Linked DNA regions of Homo sapiens: region 2 is linked to region 1. Evidence: fine-mapped expression QTL. A gene starts in region 1. The other region holds a variant in brackets. All regions are shown on one strand. Distances are between the middles of the regions. Region 1 holds the start of LINC02805 (long intergenic non-protein coding RNA 2805). Region 2 overlaps LINC02806 (long intergenic non-protein coding RNA 2806).

Evidence for each region. PIP is the estimated chance that this variant, and not a neighbour inherited with it, causes the effect.
Region 2: its variant is fine-mapped to the expression of LINC02805 in prefrontal cortex (BrainSeq, PIP 0.95).

What each region holds. Positions count from the first base shown.
Region 1 is chr1:148,155,416-148,171,899 of GRCh38, reverse strand. It overlaps LINC02805 (long intergenic non-protein coding RNA 2805), which reads right to left and starts at 9,190. Exons shown (of 2, transcript NR_135559.1): 1 at 8,908-9,190; 2 at 8,487-8,758. LOC105371227 (a long non-coding RNA gene) reads right to left here and starts at 16,235. Exons shown (of 2, transcript XR_922068.4): 1 at 15,494-16,235; 2 at 13,354-15,110.
Region 2 is chr1:148,291,247-148,303,353 of GRCh38, reverse strand. LINC02806 (long intergenic non-protein coding RNA 2806) reads right to left here. Exons shown (of 2, transcript NR_187239.1): 2 at 11,493-12,107. It overlaps LOC105371225 (a long non-coding RNA gene), which reads left to right. Exons shown (of 5, transcript XR_007066561.1): 1 at 1-1,752; 2 at 6,855-7,081; 3 at 7,172-7,230; 4 at 7,441-7,604; 5 at 12,050-12,107. It overlaps TRH-GTG1-4 (tRNA-His (anticodon GTG) 1-4), which reads left to right and starts at 549; the gene lies at 549-620. RefSeq lists an enhancer at 530-1,386. The variant G/T (reference allele first, on the strand shown) is at 8,264.

The DNA.
Region 1 (16,484 bases):
TAGGGGTACAGCAGTTAATAAAAACTCCCTTCCCTCATGGAGCTTACATTCCAGGTTGGGGGATACAGACAATAAATAATCTAAGTAAGTCAAACATATGATATGTTAGACAATCATAAGTGCTTAGCGGAAGATAAAGTAAGGAAGGTGGGTAGAGCATGCTGGGTGGGGTTTGCAACATCAAGTAGGCTAGTCTTGGAAGACTTCACTAGTAAAGATCTGAAGGAAGATGTGAGCCATAATGACTTTGCTTCCAGTTCATGGAGAGAATGAAAGCATTTTCAGGGAGAGGAAACAGCAAATGTAAAGGTGCTGACATCGAAGCATGTCTTATATTCTCAAAAAATAACAAGGAAACCAGTATAGCTGGAGTGGATGGAATAAATGAGGAGCAGGGTACCAGGAGGCATGAGAGAAGACTCTGGGGAGATGTTGAGGAGAGAGTGCCATTTGGCATGTTTTAATGAAATAACTTTATTGCTTCATTAAAACAGTGTAGAGAATAGACTAGAAAAGGTCAAAGACGGAAAGAGGAGAACAGTTAGGAGGCTACTGCACTAATCCAGGCAAAAGATGATGGTGGCTCAGACTATAACGGCAGCAGTAGAAGCAATGAGAAGTGATGGGATTCTTGATGTGTTGTGAATGTAAAACCAATAGGATTTTTTGTATGTTTAGAATGGGGGTATGAAAAAAGAGGACTCAAGGAAACTGCAAGGAGTTTTGACTTGAACTAAGAGTTGCTACTTGCTGAGATGGGGAAGACTGTGGGAGATGCAGTTTTTGTGATGCTGCTGTAGGCTATTAGGAGTTTAGTTTAGACATGTCAACTATTAGATGCCTGTTAGGTATCCATTCCATGCATGTATCATGTCTTATAAAGACATGAGTGTGAGTTTCAGGGGAGAGAGCCAGGCTGGAAGTACCAATTTATTACAGCTCTGAGATTGGATGAGCTTCCCAATGGAGTAAACATAGATTAAAAAAAAAAAAAGGTTCAAGGACTGAGCCTGGGGAGTAAAACTGCAGAGATGAGAAGAAGCATCGAGGGAAACAAAAAGAAGTGACTAGACAAGTAGTAATAAAACTGAACAAGCAGAGAGTCTGGAAGCTCAGTGGAGGAAAAAAAGTGTTTCAAAGAGGAGAGAGTGATTGTGTCCAATGCTACTGATTGTTTGCATAAAATGAGGACTGAGAAATGACCACTGGCTTAGCAAAGTAGGAGTTTTGGTACCTTGATCAGAGCAGTGTCTGTAGAGAGGTGCAGGTGAAAGTCTGATTAGAGTGAGGTCTAGAGAGAACAAAAGGAAAGAAATTGGAGACAGGGGATATGGACACTCTTTCAAAGAGTGTTGCTATTAAGGAAGTGTGAGAAAGGGGAATCGCTAGTAGGAATTGGAGTAAAGAGAGTCTTTTAAAAAATATGAGAAAACAAGATGTTTGAATGTTGGTGAGAGTGATCAAATAGAGAAAAAACAGGCAAAGTAGAAGAAATAAAAGAAAATCACTGGAACAGCGTCCTTCAATAGATGAGTAAAATAAGATCTAGCAGCAAGCTAAGGGGTTGATTTTGACTAGAAGCATGGCTAGGAGGAAAAGTTGAGCAGATGGGCACACATGCAGGAGAAAAGGAGGTGGTGCTGGAGGCTGAGTGCAGTTTCTTTTGATTGCTGTTATTTTCTCAGTGAACTAGGAAGCAAAATAATCAGCTTGGAGTGAGGATGACAGGGGCATTTAGAGGTTTGAGAAGGGAGGAGTAGGCATGAAACAGTTTTCAGGGGAGTAGGAAAGTTAATGGACTACGGAAATATTGTATGTTTGCTGGAGAGTATTAAGGACGTAACTGAGGTCAATACAGAACTCTTTGGTCTTCCAAAGTCATCTATGGCCAGTCCTTTTCAAACTGGTGTTCTTAGAGCAGGATATTCCTTGCAGCACTGAGAGGAGATGAAAGCCTGGAAGTGAATAAATGTCCTAAGATGCAACTGTTGTAACATAGCCACTTCTTCTAGAACACCACCAATATTTCCTTGGGAAATATTGAGATTTCTTTCCCTAACTCCTTTCTTCCTTTCTTTTCTGGTCCTCTTCCTTATTTGTGCTAAGATACAGCTAGAGTGGTCGTTTATGGGTTTCAGGGAGCAGATCCACTTCCTGTACCTGATGGGTTTGTTTTACTGTTGTATTGGATAGCTTTTTCTATGTTATACTCTGGTAACAAACAATCACCATTTCTCAGTGGCTTACAACCATCTGGATTTATTTCTCTCTCTTGTTACAGGTTGGCTGTAGGTCAGTTGCAGCTCTACATATCTTCATTCTGAAATTGAGTCCCTATTTAGGTCATGCCATTCTTTGGGCAGAGGGAGAAGAGCAATTGTGGAGCCACAAGATGGCTCTCAGTTTCCACTGGGAAGTGGTAATTGTCACTTTTGCTCACATTTCAATGGCCAAAGCAAGTCACATGACCAAGCTTGATGTCAATGGGATGGGAAATTATAAGCTTCTTTTAGGGAGGAGAACTCATAATTTGGAACAATCATATAATTAGCTGCAACTTTTTCCATGTGTGGCAGTAAAAAATCATCCTCAAGCAAGACAGTGGGGCAAATTACCTCTTCCTAACCATGATCAGCATTGAGCCCTCAGGAGTAACCCCAAAGTGACTTGACATTTGGTATGAATTTCTGGGTGCAATTTTATGTCTGGCCCTGTGGGCTAGATTATTTAGCTTTAGAATTTAGAAGCTGTCTTACCTTCAGGGAGGCAGTTCATGTATTTAATCACATACATTTTAGGTATTATAATAATAAAAGCAGCTATGCTAAATTTTACAAAATACATCTTATAAGCTGGAAGACAGAGGCCCATCCAGATCTGTCTTTGGAGACTTTCTTAAGTTCTACATACTCAAGATCAATTTTATGATAATATAAATACAATAGGAGAAAGAGCTCTGCTTGCAACTCAGTAATAAAAAATTCAGAGATGATAGGAAATTCCATATCTATTCTTGGCCTAGCAGGAGGAATTTTGTAGCTTGAGAAGGAGCTGGGATATTTCTCTAAGACACTGTGTAACCAAGTCTCAGGCCCATGATTCACCACTTCTTCTTCTTTGGTGCTCTGCAAAATGCCATGGGTTGTTCTGAGTGATTGCCTCACCGTGGCATGATAGACATGAGAACTCAAGACGAGCAATGAAAGTATCATGATTGACACAAATTCCAAGTATGTTGGCTTAACTATTTTCATGTTTGTTCTGTTAACACAGAAGAGACCAGGTTCTGCTGCTGTGTGTTCTTTAGTTGCATTTTAGTGAGACTTTTCCTCTCCCTTTATGAATATAGGATTCTGACAGCTGACAAATGACATTCCAAGAACTTAGCCAGAGCCCAGATTGTGCCCTGCTGTGGGAATTTCTCCTCATAGATTTGTCCAACAACTCTGCTCTGGAGAAAATGCTCAGGTGATGCATTCCCAGTGGTAGCTCAGTTCCCATCAACTCACCACTGGTGCCTGCATTAGGATGTTTTTCTTTCTTCAGGTATTTGTTTTCAGTCCATCTTCACCTCCCACCACAGTGAATTTACTGTCCGTGAAAGGGACTGGGTAGCTCTCCCCTGAGACTACCCTGGGTTTATTTTTAGCACAGGCAGTTTGGAAAAATTACTTTCCCTTGCTGACTGCACCAGGACTCTCTTAACTCTGACACAGAATTCTGGACCTTTCACATTGGATTGAGAATGAGTGGGTAATCCATGCCTTCACTTTAGAGATGGAGGAATCACATTACAACGGGGATAAAAAATTTGCCACAAGTTACCCAGACACTCAATTGAAAGAGCTTTTCTTTGATCTGTTGGTCTCAGATTTATAAGATGTTTAACAGTGTAAAAATTGCAAGTTAGTCTGACTAAATTGGACAGATTGCAGGTAAAAGCCCCGCTCCCTAAATCCCAATTGATCCCCTGAGCCATTTGTACTACCTAAAAGTGGTATTATTACTTTCAAGCTACATGCTCAAAAATTATTTCCCTTGGGAACACACACCTAACCCAAACAAAAAGATTACTACTTTTTTTCTACTCATTCAATACCCTTTGTCCCAGCTATCTTGTTTCTTTCTTCCTATGTCTCATTCAACATTATATTCACATGCTATGATCTCCCCAGACCCCTGCAGACTATTAGGTTGAACCACATGAAATTGCCAATATTCAGCTGGTTTTGACCAATAAAGGTGGTGATTTCATATAATTCAAGCAAACCCTATTAGAATGAGGTAGCAAATTGTGGAAGTTCTCATGCAGAACAATGCAAGTTATTGACCAAATCAACTACGGCTCCATACATGGAATCGAGTTGGATGTGTATCCAGGCTCTAATACAATCTGTTGTAAAATGCAGGCTAATTAGCATATTAAATGAGAATTTAATACTTGGAATATTAAAAGGGAATTTCAACTTCTGATAGGGAAAAAATGTATAACTGATGTGCACTCATGTATGTTAATATGCCAAGATTCTCTGTGTGCAACGGCTGTGACCACTACTCAGCATACGCAACTTGCTCAGGCCTTTGAAAACCAACTCTTTACATACTTTCTCTCCCCCACCACCCCCAACTTCCTCACTCTCTTTCTCTGTCTCTAGTCTCTCATAGTCAGACTTCTGAAAAGAGCAGTCTACACTCACTTTTCTACATTCTCTTTCTTATTCATCCTGTAGCTCACTGTAATCTGGTTTCTGTTCCCAACACTCCACTAAAATAGTTTCTGCCAAGGTCACTAATGAACTTTGATTGACAAATTCAACAGAAATGCTTCTGTCTTTATCTTTCTTAACTTCCCTGTTGCATTTGACAGATGTGCCAAGATTTCCTTCTTAGTATTTCATCTCTTTCTCTGACTTGCATGATCTGCCTTTCTTTTGATTTACAGATATTTTCCCAAACCAGATTTTCAGCCTTTTGAGGGCATAGGATTTGTGTCTTATTCAGCTGTGTATCCCAGGGCCTAGTTTAGTATAGCCTCTGCAAGGTGCTTATCTATATTTGTTGAATGAATGAGAAACAATGAATTAGCGAAATGACAGCACTTTGTTAATTATTAGTCATTGCAAATATTTAGTTTCTCTTTGGTTTAATCCCTATGTCTAGCAACTTCTCTACCTGACTCACTGCCATGCATAATTTTAATAATGTATAGCTGGCAGGGTGCCACATTCTTCATGTTTTCGTCTGAGAAATCCTACTTGATAGTTGGAGGCAAGGCAGTTGAGACTGAAATCCCTACTGGTTCCTTTTCACATGGCTTCCTCTAATTCTGAGCAGTTATAATATGCTGGGCTATCACTCATGAATTTTAGTAACTCCTAACTCCTAGGAAAAAAGATCTCTGTGTCCTTTTTTTCTTTTCCTCCCAAAAATGTGTCATTTTGAGATCCAATAAAGTGTGTCCAGCAAAAGGCCACTTGTTGCTTGCTTAACATATGACCTGAAAAACGGGGGATAAAACCTAACACAAGACTCAAGGATAACAAAAGAAACATGCCAATAGAAAATGCAATACACACACACACACACAATTTATGCAAGTTTAATTTCTGTTGTTTTGGTTGGAAAAGAGCTGCAGGTGTCCTCTAATTATAACCCCATTTTCACAAATATCAACTGTCATATTTAATCTGTTATATTCACCATATAGCCTACTGTTGCAGCACATTTCTTTCATTACAAATTTAGTAGCAGAGTTTCAAATGCTCAAACTAACATTCAGGCTAGTCAATTAATGCATTATTTACAAGTTAAATGTTATTAAAAACAGGTTCTTAATTTGCTAATGATTTACTAGACCCAAAGCAATATTCCAATTTTTTGTTGTTGTTGTAGTGTTTGAAAATGGAAGAACATTTAGAACAGTTGGGATGGGAGAGATGTCAGGGATACTTTGGCCTTTCTCATCCATTTCTGAATTTCTTTTCTGCATTCTTCCTTCTTGTGTGCTGTGTTTGATGCCTATATTAACCAGTTGCAGCATGGTTGAGAAGAAAGACTTATGAAAAACAAGACCAGCATAAATACTATTGTGAGGAGTGTTTTAAAAAATCACTGGGCAGTTTGGAATGACTAAATACACATGTTCCCCATACAATTTAGCATATTTTGATTTACAGTCCCATTCCAGCAGCACAACAGGTTAAGAAGTTTAGAAGTCCAGGAAATTAAATGTTATTGGCATTCCACTGTTGTCAGACTGCACACACTGAATATATGTCTCTTCAAATACACTTTGAAAGAGTTTAGAGTTTCTAAGGTTCTAGGGCCTCAGAATCATCCCAACAATCTGGATTTTCTTCTTTCTTTTAGTTTTCTTCCTCTTTTTTCTTTAACCTAGATCATGTTCTAAATCCATACCTTTCATGTTCCATAATTCCATGGCACACTACTTATTTATGAAAGATAATATGGGGGGTTGAGCTCTTTGATGAAAAATAATTCAGGTTCCATGAAGCCAGTTACCTCATCTTCATGCCTTTCTCTCCAGCTGTTTCCTTGGCCTAGAGGAATCCATTTTCTCCTCCCCACTTTTCTCTTAAAAATTTTAAAAAACCTAATTTTCTTAATAAAATCTTGTTAAATTTAAATGTAGCTCACAACAGTCATTCACTTCTCTGAATTCTATTTTTTTATATTATTATATCATATAAATTTAAAGTATACAACATGATGTTTTGATATACGTATGTATAGTGAAATGATTACTACAGTCAAGCAAGTTAACATATTCACCATCTCACATAGTTACCTTTCTTTTTTTACAGTACAAGTACCTAAAATCTACTATCTTAGCAAATTTCCAGTGTGCAATATAATATTATTGACCATGGTCCTCATGTTGCACATTGCGTTCTCTGAATTCTTATAACTCTTCACAAGAAAGTGTCATGTAGTCACTCACTTAAATTTATATTGCCTTTTATTTTCCTTACATGTAATTGTTTCTCTATAGGACAAGCTATAGAGTCAGAAAGATCTGCTATGAATTGATGGTGTTACCTAGGCCAAGCTATTTCTTTTCCCCAAGTCTCAACTTTTCTCATCTCTTAAATGGAAATAAAAACTCATATTGACTAGTTGTAAGAACTGGTGAGAGCATGCATGTGAAGAACCTGGTTAAATTGTAGCTGCCTGATACATGGCAGCTCCTGTTGCCATAATGAAATAAGACAATATATATAATTTGCCAGGTACAGTCCCTGGCTCATGTTTGGTACTCAATAAAATTTAATTCCCTTTGATACAATGAATAAGTCACAAGCATTTCTTGTTTTCATTTTCACTCAGAGTAAAGTTTTCTCAAGGGCAAAGACTAATTTTTTTTTCAAACTTTTCAGTTTGTGTGAATTAATGTTCCATCTTCTGTATTTTGGGAGGTATTCTGCACATCTCTCAGGAAACCCAGATGAAATTGAGTGCCTGCTGCCCACATCAGCAACCCAGGTAAGGCACTTTTTTGTTGGTTCTTCTTTGTTTCTCTTCTTACTCTCCCTGTTCTCTCCAATCCTCGGATCACCTTCTAAATACACTACTGGTATCCAAACCTTTGTCTCAAGCTCTACTATTGGAGGAACCCAAACTAAGTAAGGAAAAGATTCAAATGACAGAGAAAGACAATAGTGTACAAAATAGCAGAAGAACTTTCAGAGCTGTCCAAGGCAGCTAAGACAGGAAAATGTCAATGGAATAAGACAAAAATAGAATTCATTCATTCACTTATAAAAAAAAAAGGTACTTATTGAGCACCTAGTATGTACTGAACATTCTTAGGCCTTAGGGATATGGTAGTGATCAAAACTGGCAAGACATTTACATTGTAGTGAGGGAACATGCAATGAACAAGCAAATCAACATGCAAAATCATATCAGGGAGTGAGAAGAGCTTTGACAGTAAATGGCATAGTAAGAGACTGTGTGCAGGAAAGGTAGCTATTTTAGACAGTGTGATCTATTTAGAGTGAATAAAGGCCTACCTGGGAGGGTGATACTGGAACAGAAACTTGGTCAACGTGAGAATGACCCACCTTTTGTCCAATGACTATCTTCTCCTGAAGTGCAAGCAGAAAAAATCATGTGTGCTAGCCTGGGTATGGATAATAAGACAGGATCAAAATGCTGCTAGTTAGAAAAATGGGATGCACATATTTCTCAGTGTCCAATCTTTCAGACTGAGTGCTGGGCTACTCCAAAATGGACCTTAGGACCGGATATATGCCTACAGCTCATGGGTAAGGCCTTTCTGTAGCAATACCTGGGGGGATTTCATCATTTTATCCTTCATTAAAAAAAAAAAAAATCTTTTCTCCTGTCTTTCTTGTTCAGGGCATCTTTTTCTTCAATTTCTCAGATGAAAAGAATGCCTTTATTTAAATAAGACTTTAGGGCATATGCAGCGCATACTTTATCTCATTTGATTCCCACACAACTTTGTCCATTAAGTATTTTTATTATTTTTTATAGATGAGGAAACTGGGACTTGGGGGCTTTGCTTGAGAGAGCTGGGACACAAACTGAGTCTTTTGGCTTCAAGTCCATGATTCATTTCAATGCTGAGTCCACTGGCCCCTTAACCAATCTTCATCATTTTCCTGCTACCCCCATTGATGGCAACAGGATTTTATAAGCTGATGATCTTCACCTACAGGATCCCATTCCTCTGATGTTTCATCAGCGGGGACAGGATCAGGTTTCAGTAAATCTAGAAGATTAAAACTGGAAAGTCTGAGGATAATTCTATCAAGAGATCCTGTGTATTTAATGTTCTAACTTAGTCCACGTGCTGTACTTGATAGTATTTTCTCAGTGCCACATTAAGATAACAAGGATTTTCTTAAATGTAATATTTACCTTTAAGTATGTACTAAGGTGGCTGATTCTTAATGCTCCTCCTTTTGAGAAAACTTAAAGGTGAAATTGAACATAATTGCTCCTGATCCATTTCACTCCACCTAGTGGGCCTTTTGTTTGTTTTTCTTCCAAGACATCCCACTTGATTCTGCTTCTGGAGCCTAAGATGGGAAAATGGCAGGTGTCGCAGGTTGCAGGGGAAGGTCGGAGACCAGTTGAGGGCCCCGGAGTCTGTCTGGAAAGAGTTTTCCATCCAGCCCGTCTCGGTTTCCGCATCCGTGTGAGTCCTTTATGACGTCGGGAATGCCAAGGTCTGAGTCCTTTATGATGTTCAGGGTGCCCCGGTCTCACCCCGGGAGCCTCCTCGCTCCGGCCTGCTCCTGGCTACCCGGTGGGCGGCTCTGGCCCCAGCGACCCGCTACTGTTTCTCCATGCGCTGCCACTTCGCAAAGGCACATCTCTAGGTCAGTGGTCAGCTGCAGCCAGGGCGCTGCAACTCGCTCCAGGACTCGGGAATCAGGGCCTTGGTGGGCCTCGCAGAGTGCTGGGTGTGTCGCCTGCGGGCTCCTCTTTTGGAGAAAGGAGGGAGGGAAAGGCCTTGTGAGACGACTCCAGGAGCGACCAGCGACCCCCACAAGGCCCAAGTCCTCCCAGCGCACTCAGAAACAGTCACTTAAATGGCAATAAGGTTGAGAAAGACTCTCCCGTGCCCCCGTGCTGGTGTAGTGGCTGTGATTCAGTCCTTTCACCACCGCATCCCGGGTTCGATTACCGGTCAGGGAGTTGTTTTGCACTGACTGCCCACCCGCAGTAATCTTTCTTTACTCCGCTGTCAGCCGGCCTGCTCCAAGAGCCAGAGGCAGAAGAGTCTCCCTGCAAGGTGCAAACCCTGGCGAAGGAGGGCAAGTCCTGGTGGACGGCCTCTCATGACACACCCTCTTATTTATCTCCGTGTCCACCATTCGCAGAAGGGGCTTTAGAGAGCGACTGAGCGTCTCGCTCAGGTGTACACCACCGTGCAGAGATGGCAGCTCTCCTGGAGGTGTACCCAAGAAGCCCACCATCTTTGCCGCCTCCGCCATCCCAGAGGCGCCGATTGGGCTGAGCTGCAAATAACTAAGAGAGAGAGAGGCCAAGCCAAGTCGTGGCGTTTGTGTGCGGCACACGTCGTCAGCTGACACAGGCGGTCAGCTGAGCCTCCTCACCTCAGTTCGCAGCTAACATGCTTCTTAGGCCTTCGGAAGAGGCGACAGGAGGCGATGGCCGCGAGGTTGGGAGGGGGGTGAGCGGCGGGTGAGGTCCTCCAGGACCGCCCATTTATTGACTGGGTGGTACAGGAGGGCGATGTTCGCTTACCCAACAACGACAGCAGGTGGAGTAGGCACTAATGGAAAACTGTGGCCGGTGCCCTAAGCAGAAGGCAGGTGTAAAAATCACTAGGACATCAAAGGGATAGTACCACAGTCAAATCCCGCAATGTCTGTCTACACTCTACCAAGCAATTGTGCACCCTCCCCCTTTTCCATTCAGTACTCCCAAGAAGGGTTGGGACGAACCCTGTGTCCACTGTAAAGCTCAGGGGAGAGCGGGAGCGAGGGAGGTGAAGTGCACAGACTGGGCAGAGGCGGCGGGCAGAACTGCGGGGGTGAGAGGGCGCGGTGGCTGCGGGGCGGGAGCCTCTGCTGAAAGGAGGCCTGGGTTGTCCTGTGGGTGACTGTTGGTGGAATCTTTGGCAGCGAGTGGTTGGAAGAATGGCGACGGGCGAGCAGAGGGGAAGGTGGTGACCCTGAGCGTCTGGCTAGGGGAGAGGAGGCTGTACTGACACTCGTCTCCTCTTACCTGGCGAGGGACAGACCGTGGTCAAGAAGGGAGCTCTCCCTGGTTGAGGCTAGTCCACCACACTCCAGCTGCTCTGACCCCTGCGATTTCCCTACACGCGGGGCGCTTGTCTGCGGTGGTGTTTGCGCTACCCGGGGGCTGGGTTCACGCAGGCTCCTGACAGTCCTTGGCTCACCGCCCCCGACGCGGATATCGCCGCTAGAGACCCTTCCGCCACCCTCCTAGGGATCTTGAGGGCCTTCCTTGTTGTTCCGACTGAAGCTCACGAACAGACAGATGTGAGCTCTCTGTCTTTTACACGTTGAATTTGGCTATTGGCAAAAAAAGCCCTGACCCAGAGCTTGGGACTCCTCCCGGCCTGCACACGACTTCCCGACTCTTGCCTCCTAGCGCGGCTCTTGGCTAGCGGGCGGGCAGCCTCCACCCAGCGTAGAACCGCGGCAGCCGCAGCCCCCGCAGGCTGGCGGTCAGACACTAGCAGGAAAAGGGACACAAGGCCTGCGTGGTGGGAAAGCATGGGAGACGTCGCTTTCCCACCAGGCGAGAAGGTCTCCCTACAGTCTTTGGACAGAAGATGGAGGGAGGCACCCCTTCCAGGAGCAAGGCGGCTGCTCCTGAGGCCTGGCTCCGCACGGAGGCTCCTGGGTCCCGCGCGCCCTCTCCCTACCGGTTATAGCCAGAGCTGCTTCACACATCTCAGCCGGCTTCCTCTTCCGCCTCTGCCACCTCTTCCTCCCCAGCTCGTGGGAAAGACCTAGCCTCCTCTCCAACACTTGGAGAGGGAGTTGGATGAACGTCTCCTAACCCCAGTAGGACAGAGATCCTGAGGTAGGAGGGGACCCCTTGCCTTGCTGCTTCTTTTGGCACCGCTGACCCGGGCCCAGGACTCCTCGCTCCTCCTGGAAGGCCTGGGTCGTGTAGCCCACAGAGGTGGCCACGTGGGCATCTCCCCCACTGCTCCTCATAGAACCGGAGGCATTATCCTGCCGGGCCCACTCTTACCCATGAAAGAAACTTGGGAAATGCTCCCGGGGAAGCCGGGGATCTGGGCGCTCGACCACTTCGGTGTGAATCTTCCGTCCGCTCATCCTTCCTTCGGAGGGTCTTGGGGAGAGGAGAAATGCTCAAGGACGATGCGCTTTGCAGCGTCTCAAGGGAAACTAGATCTCAACGGATACCAGAAGTCTGGAGCGTCTTCCTGGAGGAAGGCGGCCCGAGGCCTGCGGTTGCAGGGAGGCTTGCGGAGCACAGCGCCCTCTCTCAGCCTGAGCTATCCAGTGGCTTCCAGCATCCCAGCTGGCCGACTCCACTTCCTCTCTCTTCCTCCTACTGCGGGTCTTCTTCTTCTCTTTGGGGACCGAATCTCGCTCTGTCGCCCAGGCTGGAGTGCAGTGGCGCGATCTCGGCTTACTGCAACCTCCGCCTCCCGGGTTGAAGCGATTCTCCTGCCTCAGCCTCCCGAATAGCTGGGACTACAGGCGCGTGCCACCACGCCCGGCTAATTTTTTGTATTTTTAGTTGAGACGGGGTTTCACCCTGTTAGCCAGGATGGTCTCGATCTCCTGGCCTCTTGATCCGCCCGCCTCGGCCTCCCAAAGTGCTGGGATTACAGGCGTGAGCCTCCGCGCCCGGCCTACTGCGGCTCTTCTATCCTGGTGTTCTTTGAATGCCTATCTTCCTTTTGTGCCACAGAACCTCTCACGCCCGCCACAGGTTGCTCATTTCCTTGGTTGTTCTGAACTTTAAATAAGTTAATGTATGTAAGAGTGCCATAAATGCTCAGTAATTGACATCTGTTATTTTCATCAGTAACATCATCTGAATCATCTGTATTGTCTATTTTTAACAACTGCATTTTTCATTGTCCAAATAAAGTCACATACATTTGAACATTATATAATGATTGAATAATAAAATTATTCTGCTATTTTACAATAAAAATTAATGTTGCAGAGAGTATTCTTACACATATATCTTGGCAGAGGTAAGCCAGAGCCTGTTCTTGTATCCATCCTGTGGCCAACCTATCAATGTAGACACCTTTAATGAGATTTTGCCAGCAATGGAAGCCTTCAGGAAAAATGTCCCTAGCTCCTTACTACTTCCTATCAAGGACACGGGACAATTGGCACAACATCCTGGAATAGCTGAAACGGAGATTTTATTCTCCGCTCTCCTCTGTTGTCTTTGTCTTTTTACAACTTCTTAATGACAGTGCTGGTGACAAGAGTGTAACTATGTCACTGTTCTCCTGCTGTCCTTGCCTGTGTGGGTCTTCTCACAAACCCGACTTTCCTCCAGCGGCTTCACTGAAAAACAGAAGGGGGCTGCCTGGGGGAGTGGGGCGGGGAGGGGAGGAGGAAATAACTTGAATAGGGCGGAAGCTTCTCACAGGCCAGGAGAGGGTAAGGAAGGGAGTCAAGGACAGAATTTTCTTCAGCAAACAGTAAAAGGGGAAATCCGGGGACGCTAAGAGTTTTTAAACCTTTGCTCCATCACATAAGTAATCCATGATTTTCCGTTACACAAATCAGGACTCCCACTCCTCCCTCCCTCCCCACCCCCAATCCTGATTCCTGTTTACAAAGAATGCTCAAAAACACAGAATTATGTGTAACAGTTCCCAGTTTACTCAAGAAATTCTCAGATTACAAAGAGACTTTACAAATAAACAAGTGAAGAGAAGAACCTTCGTGGGTCCAACATATAGTATGGCCATGGTTTTATACTCAAAATATGGAAAGACAACCTCAGAATAAGGAAACTTTTGGAATTGAATAAATCAAGTTTATCATTAGAACGCAGAGAAAAAAACACTCTCCAAATGTTTCTGATCTTCTGTTTTAAACTGCTCTTAGACTGGGGAGCGGGAGAGCAAGGGAATCCGCCAAAGATTTTTGGATGAAAATTCACCACCCCTTGTCTACCATAGTCACACCTCAATGCCCCTCAGATTGGAATCCTTTGGAAGGAGAATCCAAGAGGTATAAAGCAAAACCAGAAAAAAAGCAAAACTCGCAAATTCTGTAGTTCGTTTTCTCTCATTAAAAATATAACTATCAGGCTAACACCTGTTGACACACAATACCAGGGACACAGAATCTCTCCCGGAAGACCGACGGGCCCACGGAAGGCGCGGATGCCAAGGTGGTTGAGGAGGTTAAGTAACTCGGTGTTTGGGCATACCTCTGCGTGGGACTGTCTCCGCCGCGCCCCTCATCTCTACGCGGATAGATTCCCACACGCTTCCCTTTTCCTTGGGCCGCTGAAACCTCTCCGACCAACCGCCGAAGAGTCTCCCTGGACCCCGCAGCTTCTCTCCTTCCCGGACCTTCTTGATCCTCGCTCCATAGTGAGACGTGGCCTAACGTAGCGGAAAGCCCAGCACGCGAATCCCTCTGATGGGCTTTGGGTTACCCAGGGGTTTGCCGGGAGACTAGATGAAAGTAGCAAAGGTTTTAATTCCCAGTATTTAAAACTGCAGCAACCCACCGGAAACACTCCCCACTTTCAAGGACAGGCTTCGAGCACAGGAACGTAAATTCCGGGATTATTAGTTCGAGCACAGAGAATGCTCCAGAGGTGGCACGCCCCTCAGGTTAGCTTCTAGCTGCCACGACCAAGGTCCATAAATGCAGTACAGCCTGTATAATATAATAACTTCGTTGGGTAGAAACGTAGTAGCCCTTCCTGCCGGAAGGGTAAGAAGTCCTGCATGGCCGGGAGTCGTACCGGAGTCGCCGGCGTGGGAGACAAAAACCTCTACCGCTGAACTACCAATCCCCTACCGGGAGCAGTTTCACCAGATCTAATTTGAAGTCTCTGGACGGCCTTTGAAGCGGTGGTTCTAAAAGAGGTTTGCATAGGAAATTCATCCAGCATTTGTCTCTGGTCCCAGATCTGGCGAAAACTTCTGGAAATTTCATTTCCTCACTGATGAGGTAATCTTTTTGCCAACCCTTGCCTTGGTACTTTCCAAACCCTTTCCTCCCAACCCTGAGGCAAACAGGCTTTCGAAGACCCAGGAGCTAGAGATTTAGGGATGTGTCCAGGTTACTCCGGAAGATCTGTGGGATGACCGAACTTCTCTTCATCTACATCTCTTTTGAGTCATTTGAAAACGCCAAGTATCTTGCTTCTAAACCCATATATTTTAAGAAACCTACAGAAGTGGGAGTGAGTGAAAGTTCACTCCAATATTTCTTTTCTTATCCACACTCTCTTTGGCCACTCCAGGAGGCTATGTCGAGTGGCACAGTCATCCCAGGGACCCAGAGCTTTTCTCCTCAGATGCGTCTTTGGAGTCTCTAGTAAAGTCCAAGAATCAAAACGACTGTCATCCAACTTTTGTGTCTTACAGAGATCTACACAAGAGAGAAAGTGAAAATTTCACTACAGAATTTCTTCTCTTGGCAAACTGTGGAAGGTTTACGGCAAGCCTTTGCTTCAAGTGCCTGTTGCTTTGTTAGCTCTGTTTTCCAAAAATATCTGTGTCAGCCTATTATAGAACTTTCCCACCTCCATCCTCCCTGCCCCCTCATGCCTGCCCATAGCACTAGAGATTATCTTTAAGGAAAAAAAAAAAAAAAACTATGAGAGGTTATACCAAACGGAGCATTGATGGTTCAGTAATAGAATTGTCAACTCCCACGCTGGAGACCAGGGTTCAACTCATAGGGTGAATGCATCTCATGTCTGAATCTCCTCTTGCTCCCTTCTTTCTTTCCTCCCTCCCAAGCTTACATACCTTTGTTACCGGCTGGTGTTGTGAAGTCCCAGGTTCTTGGTGTCTTTAACAAAGAATTGGAAGTGACACACACACATGTAGCAAAGCAGCAAGAGACTTATTAAGCACAGTAACACTCTCAGAGAGGGGAGAACGGGCTGACTTCTGCAAAATGAGATCAGCGTCAGTTTGGTGAACTTTGGGCTTTGGGTCTTTTTACATGTTTTTTTTTTTTTCTTTTTTCTCCTCTTCCTGGGGCTGCCTAATCTCTACCCAGCATGTGCCTTCTGATTGATAGGTGGGTTGCTTAGTTACTTGGCCCCTGTGTGCTTCCGCATCACCTCCATCCCATAATTTTAAGTACACCCATGATATGCAGTCCATATGCATTAGCTTTAATGAGCTGATTATCATACGGGGTCATTTTAAGGCTACTTTTTCTCTGTCATATGCATGCCTTTTACTGGTTTGTTCTGGATCCTGCCAGCCATAAACTTTTACTCACTACTCCATCTCACTTTTGTTTTCGCTGCTCAACTTCTGCTTATCTTGCTTCTTGCTCACCCACCTCTTTATCCTGCTTCCGCTCCTACTCAGTTCACCCTTTATCCAACTTCCACTTCCCTCTGCTGTTCTTCTGCCTCACCTTGACTCCTCGTTGCTTGGCCTGTTGCACACCAAATTTACTGCAAATAAAACTCTCTCTGATGATCTTCTACTCCACCTGTGGAGTTCCACAGTATGAGCAGCAGAGTAGCAGGAGCTGGAGCAGAGGTGGTGTTGGGTGAAACTCACACAGTGAAATTTCACTTATGCAAATGCTCAAGCACTTGTGAGAGGTTAGAATTAGCTCTTTCTTTGGAATGAACTATTTCAGTGAGATGTTAAGCTTACACTTAAAGTGTAAGCTCTTTCACCAAATTAATTGATGTGCTCAGGGTGAGTGAAATAAAGGGGTAAACCAGGATTAGTGCTGCAGGGTCAGAGCTAATGACACAAGCTTCTCTCCTCA
Region 2 (12,107 bases), 130 kb before region 1:
AGCTGGAAGGGCAGCGGAATGGCCTTCGCCCCGTCCTGACCCTCGCAGGCGTCAGACCCAGCATCCCAGGAAACGCCCGGGTCCGCGACTCCCTGGGCCTGAGCCGCGTGGGTCCCAGGGGAAGCAAGCAGAACGCCCCGTGGGCTCTAGTGATGGCTCTTCCCCTTCTTGGCTCCGCCTTCACCCGATTCTCTACTGCTGCTTGCGCTCCCCTCGCTCACCTCGGCCTCGGTCGGTGGGGCGGGAGAGAGGAGGGGTGAAAAGCAGAAATACGGAGAGGCCCCACAGAAGCAGAGGAGGTGCGGACCAGGACAGAGAGACCTCCCGAGAGAGGCTGGTGCAGGGAGGCCCAGGCTGGAGTGGAGGAGATGAGAATTGTTCTCATCACGTATGAAGATTGGGAGGAAGGGAGGGAAAAGCAGAGCGGGCATGAAAGAAAAGCGCGAGTCCCCTGTGGCTGTCTGGGAACGAATCCGCCTAATAATCGAAATCCATTGACGTCAAAAGGGCTAGAGCAAGCTCCGCCATCGCGGCTTAGCCTGTGGCTCGCCGTGATCGTATAGTGGTTAGTACTCTGCGTTGTGGCCGCAGCAACCTCGGTTCGAATCCGAGTCACGGCAATGTCGTTAGTCTAGGCTGTCAGCTCTTCCCTTTTGCTCCCGCAACCAGGCGCGTCAGGGGAAGGAAAAGAGACCTCACACCTTACTAACTTGGCGAGGAATCCAAGGGAAACCCTGGACGTGCTCCCTCCTGTTTCTGAGCCTCACGCAGCAAATAACCCAGTCGGCCCTGTTGGTGGCTTACACGAAGGCAATGGTGTGCTCAGAACCGTTCTTCCGGTCACTGGGGGCACGTCGGGGTAAGGAAAAGAGACCTCACAGCTCACTAACCTGGGGAGGAGTCCAAGGGAAACTCTGGACGTGCACCGTCCTGTCTCTGAGCCTCACAGAGCAAATAACCCAGTCAGCCCTGTTGGTGGTGGCTTACACGAAGGCAATGGTGTGCTCAGAACCTGTTTTCCAGTCACTGGGGCTGTTACACACGAAACGACAAGAAGCTTTTAATGACTTTAAACTCCAAACTCTTTGTTGTGGCCTACAATGGCTTGTCTCTGTGCCCGTCACCAAGTTTGTATGCCAACAGCAAAGTGTGAGGAAAGGCAATCTGGTGCCAGGGGTCTTTCCACCTCCACTCTGCCACGTAGGAATGGGCCTTGGGCCTGGAGCACTTCCTTCCTGAGAGATAAGGAGTCATCACAGCCTGTGCTGGACTCACCTCCTTGTGTGGGAGTATCTTTCCCCCGATCAGACTTGGTGTGTACCCCTTTGTTCCACTTAAGCATGTGCATCAACTGGCACCTGGCCAGCTGCTGTATCTGCCCCCCACTGAGGGGAGGAAGCGGGGGTCCTTTCTTCTGCTTCTCAAGAGGCTGTGTGTGCAGGCCAAATGGAGGGACCTGCTGGCCATGGGGGACCAACGCCCAAGACTGAAGCGGAGCCCACACCCCGCTCTGTCTCCTCTCTGTATGAATAATGTGTTGTTCTCCCGTCCAGTCTCTGACTGCCTTGTATTTCCTTGGCGACTCTGATACCAAGAGGCTAGGGCCAGAAGTGTTCAGACTCCTGCTGATAGGAAACCGATGCCACTTGCTGGACAAGATGAACGAAAATTCTTCTTGTATAGGTCTTTTTGTGGACACGTGCATTCATTTCCCTTGAGGAATACCAAGTACTGGAATTGTTGGATCATAGGGTAGGTGTAATATTAACTTTATTAGAAACGGCCAAATGGTTTCTTCCAGAATGCTTTCTCACCAGCAAGGAGAGTTCCACTGGCTGGACATCCTTGACAGCGCGTGGTGTTTACTGTTTTTTAAATACACCTGTTCTGGTGGATGTAAAACGGTACCACATCGTGGCTTCAATTTGTGTTTCCTTTAATGAGTAATGCTGTTGAGCATATTTTCTAATGCCTTTTCACCGTTTAGCAATCCTTCTTTGAGAAGACAGGCTTTGAAGCATTTTCCCTAATTCAATTGGCTTTGCTTTTTATTACTGATTTGTAAAAAGTACTCTCTATATTCAAAATTTGAGCCTTTTTTTTTTCAGGTAAACACAGTGCAATTATCTTCTCCCAGTCTGTGGCTCACCTTCTCACTTTCTCATGGTGATTCTTGATGAGCAGAAGTTGATAACTTTGGTGAAATTCTACTTTGCTTTATTTTTTCCTGTTATCTCTTAAGGCAGAAATGTATTCTGCTACATTCTCTTCCAATAACTTTAGGGTTTCGTTTTAATTTCTAAATCTATGGCATATCAAATTCATCTCCTGACCACAGCAAACTTAGCATCTGCTAATGTCCTGATCACCAGAAAACTTCTGTATACTGTAAATACACTGGCAAGAGTTACTTCTCTGCTGTTTCACAGCTATGGGCCCTGTGCCTCCCTCCATTTCTTCCCTACTCCTCTCTCCCTCTGTCTCCTTCTCTGTCCTTCTGTCTCTCCTCTGATGCAGCTGAGAATCCCAGAGACATCTGAAACAGAGAAGTGGACAGGTCCAGTCTAATCTATGTCCAAGAACCCAGGTTCTGTATTAGAAATCTATGTCGGCCCTTGCCTGACCTTGGTTAACTATCTTAAATGTTATGTGCCTCAACATTTTTCTGTGGAAGGTTGGGCCTCTTTGGGAACTCTGCCTTACACTGCTGTTGTCAGACGGGCCTGGATTTAGTGACTACTCAATCAATAACGTAATCACTAGAATTATAAAAATCATTATCATTGTCCTCTGCCTTATTTGTGAACAATCACTCTCCAGATTGTTTTCACTTTACCTTTGCTTGTAGAACTTCACGCAGATGGAATCACGTTGCATCTACTCTGTTCTACATGCTTCTTTCTCTCTGCATAATGTCTCTGGCTCTATCCATTGCTGAGTGTAGCAGAAGTTCATTCCTCTTTCATTGCTGAGTAGTATTCCATTGCAAAGAGACAGCACAGTTTGTTTGCCATTCTCGCCCCACCTCCACCCCGATAATGAGCGTCTGGGTATTGGCTATTCTGAATAAACCGGTATTGGGTATTCTGAATAAGCCGGCTTTGAACTTTCTTCCCACAAGAGATTTTGAGGGCACCTGTTTTCGTGTCTCTTGGGGAAAACCTAGTTGCCTAATTGCTGGTACCAAAGAGTGAGATATGTGCAAGATCATAAAAACTCACAAAACTTGGCCCAAAGTAGTTGTGTCATTTTACATTTCCAGCAATGACGTGTGAGAGTTGTGGTTGTTCTTCATCTTCTCCAAGATTGGGTGTTTCCTCTCCTTATAAATTTAGCCATGCTACTGGGAGTTATAGTGGTGTCTCAATGTGGTTTTGATTTCCATTTTCCTGAGAGCTAAACATATTGTATATGCTTTGTTGACCATGTGTGTACCTTTTATTCTTATGTATCTGTTCAAGTCTTTTACCCATCTAGCATACTTGGGTTGATTGGTTTGTTGTTGTTGTTGTTGTTGTTGTTGTTGTTGTCCTTGTTGTTTTAATTACCAGGTAAGAAGATCTCAGCATACTTTATAGTTACAGGGTTTGGGGGTCAGATAAGTTTCGTGACTATTTTCTCCCTGTCTGAGGCTGTCTCATTTCTTCACTTTCTTTGTTGCCTCTTTTGATGAGAAGATATGGCTAATATTTGATGAAGTCTAATGTATCAAGCCTTTCCTTTATACATTTTTTTCTGTGCCCTATTTAATAAATCTCTGTCTACCAACAAGTCACAAAGTATCCTCGAAATGCTTTATATCTTTGGCTTTTATATTTTGGTCTATAATGTGTCTCAAGTTACTTTCAAGTGTAGTGTGAGGGAGAAATAACCTTGTTCGTCTACCCCTTCTCCTTTATGAAAGGCAATTAATTGAAACTATTTCCTTTGCCCCATTAAACTGCTTTTATTGAAAACCTATGGCCAGTCATGGTGGCTCATGACTGTAATCCCAGCACTATGAGAGACTGAGGCCTGTGGATCACTTGAGCCCAGGAGTTGGAGACCAGTCTGGGCAACATGGAGAAACCTCATGTCTACTAATATGTGCCTGTAGTATGAGCTACCTGGGAGGCTGAGGCACGGGGATCGCTTCAGCCTGGGAAGCAGAGATTGCAGTGAGCCGAGATCGCGCCACTGCACTCTAGCCTGGATGACAGAGTAAGTCCCTGTCTCAGAAAACAAAAAGAAATTAACAAACAAACAAAAAACCTATGAACCTTATAGCTGTGGGTCAGTTTCAGGTCTCCAAAGTCAGTCTGTTGATGTATTTGTGTCTCCCAATGCCACTTGCACACTGCCTTGATTATAACAGCTTAGAGTGAGTCTGAAACTCAGGTTGTGCAAGTCCTCTGGTTTTCTTCTTTTTCACACAGCATAATAAGCTTTGAAATAGGTCATAACTCATGTAACCATCACATAGATCAAGATATGCTGTCACTTCATACCTCTCATTTCAGTGTGGGATACAAGTACTTGCACATCTATGCTGATTGCCCCCTTGGGGCCAAGGATCATTGTTACGGGAAGTCAGGGACCCCAAGTGGAGGGACCGGCTGCAGCCAAGGCAGAGGAACATAAATTGTAAAGATTTCACCTTAATATGGACATTTACCAGTTCTCAAATAATACTTTTATAATTTCTTTTGCCTCTCTTTACTTTAATCTCTTAATCCTGTTATCTTCATAAACTGAGGATATACCTCACCTCAGGACCACTGTGATAATTGTGTTAACTGTACAAATTGATTGTAAAACACGTGTTTGAACAACATGAAATCAGTGCACCTTGAAAAAGAACAGAATAATAGCGATTTTTGTGAAACAAGGGAAGACAACCATAATTTCTGACTGCCTGTGGGGTCGGGCAAAAAGAGTCATATTTTTCTTCTTGCAGAGGGCCTATAAACGAACATGCAAGTAGTCAACATATCACTAAATTCTTTTCCTAGCAAGGAATATTAATATTAATACTCTGGGAAGAGAATGCATCTCTGGGGGGAAGTCTATGAACGGCCACTCTGGGAATGTCTGTCTTGTGCAGTTGAGATAAGGACTGAGATAAGCCCTGGTCTCCTGCAGAACCCTCAAGCTTACTAGGGTTGGGAAAACTCAGCCCTGGTAAATTTGTGGTCAGACCAGTTCTCTGCTCTCAACCCTGTTTTCTGTTGTTTAAGATGTTAATCAAGACAATACATGCACCACTGAACATTGACCCTTATCAGTGGTTCTGCCTTTGCCGTTTGCCTTGTGATCTTTGTTGGACCCTTATCAGTGGTTCTGGTTTTGCCCTTTGCCCTGTTCCCTCAGAAGCATGTGATCTTTGTTAGACCCTTATCAGTGGTTCTGCTTTTTGCTATTTGAAGCATGTGATCTTTGTACCTACTCTCTGTTCTTACACACCCTCTCCTTTTGAAACCCTTAATGAAAACTTGCTGGTCGGAGACTCAGGTGGGCATCACAGTCCTACTAATATGTGATGTCACCCCTGGCACCCCACCTGTAAAATTCCTCCCTTTGTACTGTCTGTCTTTATTTCTCAGCTGGCTGACACTTATGGAAAATAGAAAGAACCTACGTTGAAATATTGGGGGCGGGTTCTCCCAATAGATCCTCTCTTCTACCCTCTGGAGAGAATAAATCTTCAGTTGTCTGCAGGGAGGAGGAACACACAAAAAGTCCACAACACTCAGCACAGAGTCCAGATTTTGGTAGTGGGGTTGATGGGGAGGAAGCTCACATTTCAGGCCTTTCAAAATCTTAGGAAAAGTTTTCTTTATTTCTAACTGTGAAATGTACAAAGCTTTGGGTCATTTATAATTTCTTCTTCTTCTTGAAAGATCACAGGAGACCTAATATTTGTGTCCCCCCAAAATGCCTTGGTTGAAACCCTAACCTTCCCCTGTCCACCCCTGGAAAGTGTTAAAATTAGGAGGAGGGGCCTTTGGGAGGTAATTAGATCCAGAGGGTGGAGTCCTCCTGAGTGGGATTAGTGCCCCTATAAAAGGGACACTAGAGAGCTCTCTCAGCCTCTTTCAGCCCCCTGCAGATACAGTAGGAAGATGGCAGTCTATGACCAGGAAGAGGTTCCTCACCATAACCCTACCATGCTGGCACCTTGACCTTAGACTTCCAAACTCCAGAACTGTGAGAAATGTCTGTTGTGGATCAGCTACCCAGTTTATGGTACATTAGCTCCAACTAAGACAGAGATGGAGTCCCATGGAGGGTGTCTAATTTTTGATGCTGGTCATTGCATTCTTCATGTGGGATGTTGCAAATTAGAAACTGAGGGAGAGCTGACCTTTCCTGCATATGTAAGAAGAGAGTGGAGGGGCAAAGATACAGAATGGGAAAGAACAAGCTGGAACCAGAAAACTTATTTCAGGGTCTGGCACTTGAATGTCTTATTTTAGAGAAAGAGAAGACACTGGTAGAAGACCTTCAGTGGAAACCTTCAGCAGATATTTAAAAGCCATTCAATTACATCTTCACTTGTTTGTATGTAGTTCCTCTTTTCCCATCTTTGTAAGTGTGGCACAGGTGAACTGGATGTGTTTATTCAATGTGTTTTTGGAATGCATGTGTAAATAAAAATGACTGTGTCATACTTCCCATATTCATCCCGGAACCTCCTAGAGTTCCCTTAGGTTCTGCCAATTGTACATTGAAAGTACAACAGGCCCGTCGTGGGGATTAATTTTCATTGAACATTTCTAGGAGGAGGGAGGAGGAGGTGGGGGGAATGTGACAGTCTCAACAACAGTTGCTATACTACTCTTACCAAAGTGGTTTTCCTATGTACTTCTCAACAGATCGGCCCTTTCTTCAAATAAGAGCAGTTGGAACAACAAAAGCTGTTCAGTTGTACCCTTGGAATCCACGGAAATCCTGGGTAGGGAAGCTCCAGTACCACCAACTGGAAAGACTGGGAATGCCTAGTAGCTGGTACTGGCCATTGTCGTAGGCTTTGTCCACTTTGACAAACTGAAGACGGGGACTCGACTCACCTTCGCCAGCCACAGGAGGACCTCCAGACGAGGTTAGGTCGACTTCATGGTAACTTTAGATCTTGAAACCTCACAGGATTTTTCTTCTCTTCCCCTTGATCTCTCTTCCGCTTACTCAACAGGACCGGACTCGCCGCCTTTCTTTCCCGTCAGAAAGGGATCCCTTGCGGACAAGACCGAAGTGAGTAGCTGGTTTCCCCTACGTGTCCTTCCGGGGCTGGGTGTCTCGGGAGCTCAGGCTGACAGGAGACCTAACTACCGGCGACTGAGACCAGCAGGAGCCTGGAGGGGCGCGCACCAGGGTGGAGGTTTGGTGCCGGGGGTTGAGAACAACAGTCAAACCCTCTTCTTCCCTGTACCGCGCACCTGCCCCCTGGGATGCCGAACGAAGTGGCCCCTAAGGCTTCTCTGCAGGTCCAACCGAAACAGGCCTGAAGTTCCAGGATGGGCGAGAGGATCCTCTTTGAGCGAAACCAGCCTTCTGCCTGGCTGGCCCTGGTCAACACACTCGGAAGAGGCCGATTTGGAGGACAGAACGGAAGAAAAGACCTAAAGGTAGAATCTCATGATGTCGAGATGTTAAAACCCTCAAATTTTTCCAAATATGCAGGGGGGGAAAGAGGATAATAATATTCCCAATATCGCAAGAGTTATACACCCCCGCGTGAAATGGTCCTTAATAATATTCCAAGGCGGAGGGGATGATGTTACTACATATATCGCAGAAAGTGTACACCCCCCAGGGATATTATTCCCATGATCCTGGAGGGAAGAGGATATTACTTTAAATATCACAGAAGGTGTACACGCCCCCAGTGATATTGTTTCTAATTTCAACGTGGGAGAGGAGGATATGACACCCAACATCGCAGGGAGTAGAAACACTCCTGTGATACTGTTCTCAATATTCAGGGAGAAAGAGGTTGATATTACTCCCAATACAGATGAGTGTACACAGGTCTGTGAAATAGTTCATAATTTCCAGAGGGGGAGTTGATATATACTCACAATATCGTAAACAGGCTATGAGTCCACCGTGGATCGTAATAGCTAGGGGTGGAGAGATCGTTGCTATTACTCCCCTTATTGCGGGGGGTGCCTCACCCCCCTGAGATGTGGATCGTGATAGCCGGGGCAGGTGGAGGGGGTTCCTATTACTCCCCATATCGCAGGGGTTGCCTCACACACCTGCGATGTGGATTGTGACAGCCAGG[G/T]GGGGAGAGGGGGTTGCTATGACTCCCCATATCGCGGGGGGTGCCTCACCCCCCTGCGATGTGGATTGTAATAGCCAGGAGAGGATCCAGAAGTCAGAATCCATTTTCTATCCAAACCATATAGAATAGTGATGGCTTTGGTTTCTGAGAATAGATCCAGGCATGGAATCACACAGACTTTCATTCAGAGCTGGGTTTTGCCATGTGCAAGTACCTCACCTCTTAGAGGAGATGAGATAAAATATGTGGAACACTTTTCACAAGTCTGGCACACAGACAGCACTCGCATATTTTTAGTGCTCTTATTGTTGAATCCTTTGGGAGAAAAGATAATAGATTAGAGTGTGGATTTTTTTCCCTCAGGTTTTGTTTTGAGCTCAGGCTGCTTTATTCAGTGATGACCTGTATTTACTTCATAAGCAGACACTTCATTGGAGATTTTAGCTATATTTTCCCCATGGGCCCACTTTATGCTGAAACAGTAGCACAGATGGTGAGACAGTTTAATGCCATTGCCTTACCTCCTGATAACAGCATCGTTGACATGTCAGCACTCCATGTCAAAATATTATGACAAGCATAATAAGTAAAATAAATTAAAAACACTTATTGATTTTAAGTGTTATTTCCGTCTACTATCAATGACATACGATGTCAAATGTGATATAATTGAAGTATATTTTAAGCAAGATAATTAACAAATTGGATTTTGGAGTTGATTCTTTACATGCTTTATGCAATTTCATGAAAAATCCCCGTATGTAGACACAAATCAACAGAAGCTCCTGGCCATGAATATTGTAATATACAATTCCAATGATACCCTTCCTACCAAGGCATCATGCCCATACACATGAGATGAGAGAAGAGAGAAAAATATGCTGTTGACTTTGCTCACACCATTCTGGTAGAAATCAACAGCCAACCCAGCATTCATACAAAACTTAGAATTGGAGTAGTGGTAACTTGCTCTTCATTTTATCTCAACCCCATCAAGATCTACCTTCTCTGTACTGAAGGTTTCCTAGGCAAGGGTAGAGATTGGGCTGGGGCAGAGGTACACCCAACCAACCACCACCTTCTGGACCCCATCGGGGGTGACATCACGTTTTCATGAGGGAAGGCTTTAATAATAACAAAATCCGAGTGCTACAGAAGATGAAAAGCCCCATGCTCTTCTGCACTGGAGAGTGAAGCTTTTAGTACAACAATGTGGTTAAAAAGCAGGAGGAGAAAAGGAAGCAGAGGCATCAATTACAATTAGAGATTTCCTGACAAGGCCTATGCTAAACGAGTTATAGAGGCAATTACCCTAAAAATTTTGAAGCAGCCATTTGCTCAGTAACTTACACCGACCTGACACCCAACCAGAGATTGCCATAAGCAGGGAATTTATGGTGTTAGAATGCTGCTTTAGCGTAAATTACCTCAGGGAACAGATTTAAACCAGTTGCATTTTAAAAATTATGCAGCAACAACAACAACAAAATGAGTTTATGCAAACTCAATACCAATTGCAGAATGGGGCCCTCTAAGTCTTTATCTTCAAAGATGCTGCATTCCTTCTCGCCTGTTTGTTTTCTCTCTCTGGATGAAGATTCACAGCATTAATACATAATAACTGTATCTCACTCCATTACGGGTAGTTCAAGGCCGCTCCGCATAAACTATATGCACGGCTTTGTGTCTTCATCTTTAAAACCACCAAATACCTTGGTCACAGACATATGTTAGGTTTAATGCATCCCCTGCCATAAATGTGTTGCTTAAGACTAATGAACAAACGAAAGTTTGTTTAAACCTCTTTGTGAAAATCAAACTAGCTTTCAACAGCTATTCCTGTATTTATTGTCAGATGTGAATCATCACTGAGGTGCTTTGCCCTGAACTATAACCAGTTAATGCTCATAGTTTCATGGTACTAATTCACTTGCTATGGTTTTCGTTTTTTGTTGCATTGTTTTTCCCCCTCTCTTCTTCCTTTCTGTCAGTACCATCTCCAGAAAGGCACTGTATGAAAAGTCCCATGTTGTTTCTGGCAGAACTGACACATTTGTGCCTAGCATAGTGATGCTGTTGTCTGCAGAAGGGTCACAGCCTTCAGGGACTCTCCTGCCAGTGCTGTATTTTGCCTGCACCCCTCTGGCTTGGCTTCTGCACTGAGACCCTCCTAACAAGTGAGCACAAGCAAGACACTCTCCCTGCCTCTACCCCCACCCCTCCTCACAAAGTAGCTGTTTTTTCAAACTCAGCAGCACTGAAAAGCTCCCACCAGATTTACCCATTATACTAAATATCAGGTTTTAGAAGCTGGGAACTGTTATTCTAGTGTTGCTGGGTGTCATTAAGGTTGCACGTCTATGCTTGTTTAATTTTTCTCCTGCCATGAAGCAAATTAAGTGCTCGGAGGTTTTTTCTGTCTCACTGGGGTCCACCCAGAAGAGAAAAGAGAGTAAGTGTTCCAGGGTTGTGTAACTGGATTTTTTTTGCTGTTTTCATTATGAGGAAGGAATTAAAAATCCCTCCTAGTCAGTACTTAAAATATCAAAGTCATTGTTTAATGCCTTTGAGTCACTGTACAACTAATTCAATTGCACAGTATAGCACCGTTTCATGGTGTGTGAAACACAGATAGTACATAGAAGTGATTGCAAAGTTGAATAAACACCAAATTAGTTTTAAAAGTCTGCGACTTCCCAGTGGAGTCTTTCAAACTGAACGGCACTATTGTCTGACAAAGTCGATGGCCACCAAAAGGTTGCATTACCTTCTGCTTGTGCTAATGGAAGAGAGTGTCCCCTGACACTGTGGCACCTGGAGGAGAAGGCCATCCTCTGGGAGGCTTGTGTGCTGACAACTCCACATAACCAGCCTGCTTGTCACTCAGGGAGACATGACCACACAACACAGCCTGGAGTGGACAAGGAAGAGAGATGGTGTAGGTGAAAGAAAGGCCATGGCCAAACGAGAGACCCCAGGACAATTTTTAAAGCAGTTTGATATAGATGAAATATTGTAATTTGAGAATTAAAAAGACAAAGTTAGGCCCCATGCTTTGTTGCTTCCTGGCTGTGAGACTATTTTCAACTCATTTAACATTTCTGAGCCTCAGTCTCCTTATCTGTGCCCATTTGGTCAATAACAATTTTTCACTAACTATTATGTATTTTCTAGGCACTGTTCTAAGTGCTGCAGTGCTGGGGCCACAATATCAAACAAAACAAGTGAGTCAGTGTCTTCAGTGAAGTTTACTGTATATTATAAACAGTCATAGAATTCAAAGACAATCATATAACCAACTCTTTTGGATGGCTTAGGATGTGCCAGGTACTGTGCTAAGGACAAGAGATATAACCAGATACAAACCAGTCCCCATCCTCAATCATTACTTATTCACTCAACAAATATTTTTGAGTACTTACCCTGCACCAGGCACTAGGGATATAACAGATAAAAATTAAGTCTCTCGCTTCATGAAGCTTTCATTCTGATAGAGGGAGACAGGCAATAAGCAAATAAATGGTTTATTCCACCACCCCTTCAAGTCTTCACTCAAATGTTCCTTTTTCAATGAGACTATATAACCAACGTATTTAAAATTTCAACCACCATCCTGCATTCACTGCTTTTCATCTTGCTAAGGTAGTTAATATGTGTTAATTTGACTGAACCACAAGGTGCCCAGATACTTGGTCAAACATTATGCTGGGTGTGTCTGTGAGCATGGTTTTGGATGAGATTAACATTTGAATCAGTACACTGAATAAAGCTTATTTCTTTCCCCAGTAGATGATCCTCATCCAATCACTTAAAGGCCTGAATAGAACCAAAAGTCTGACCTGCC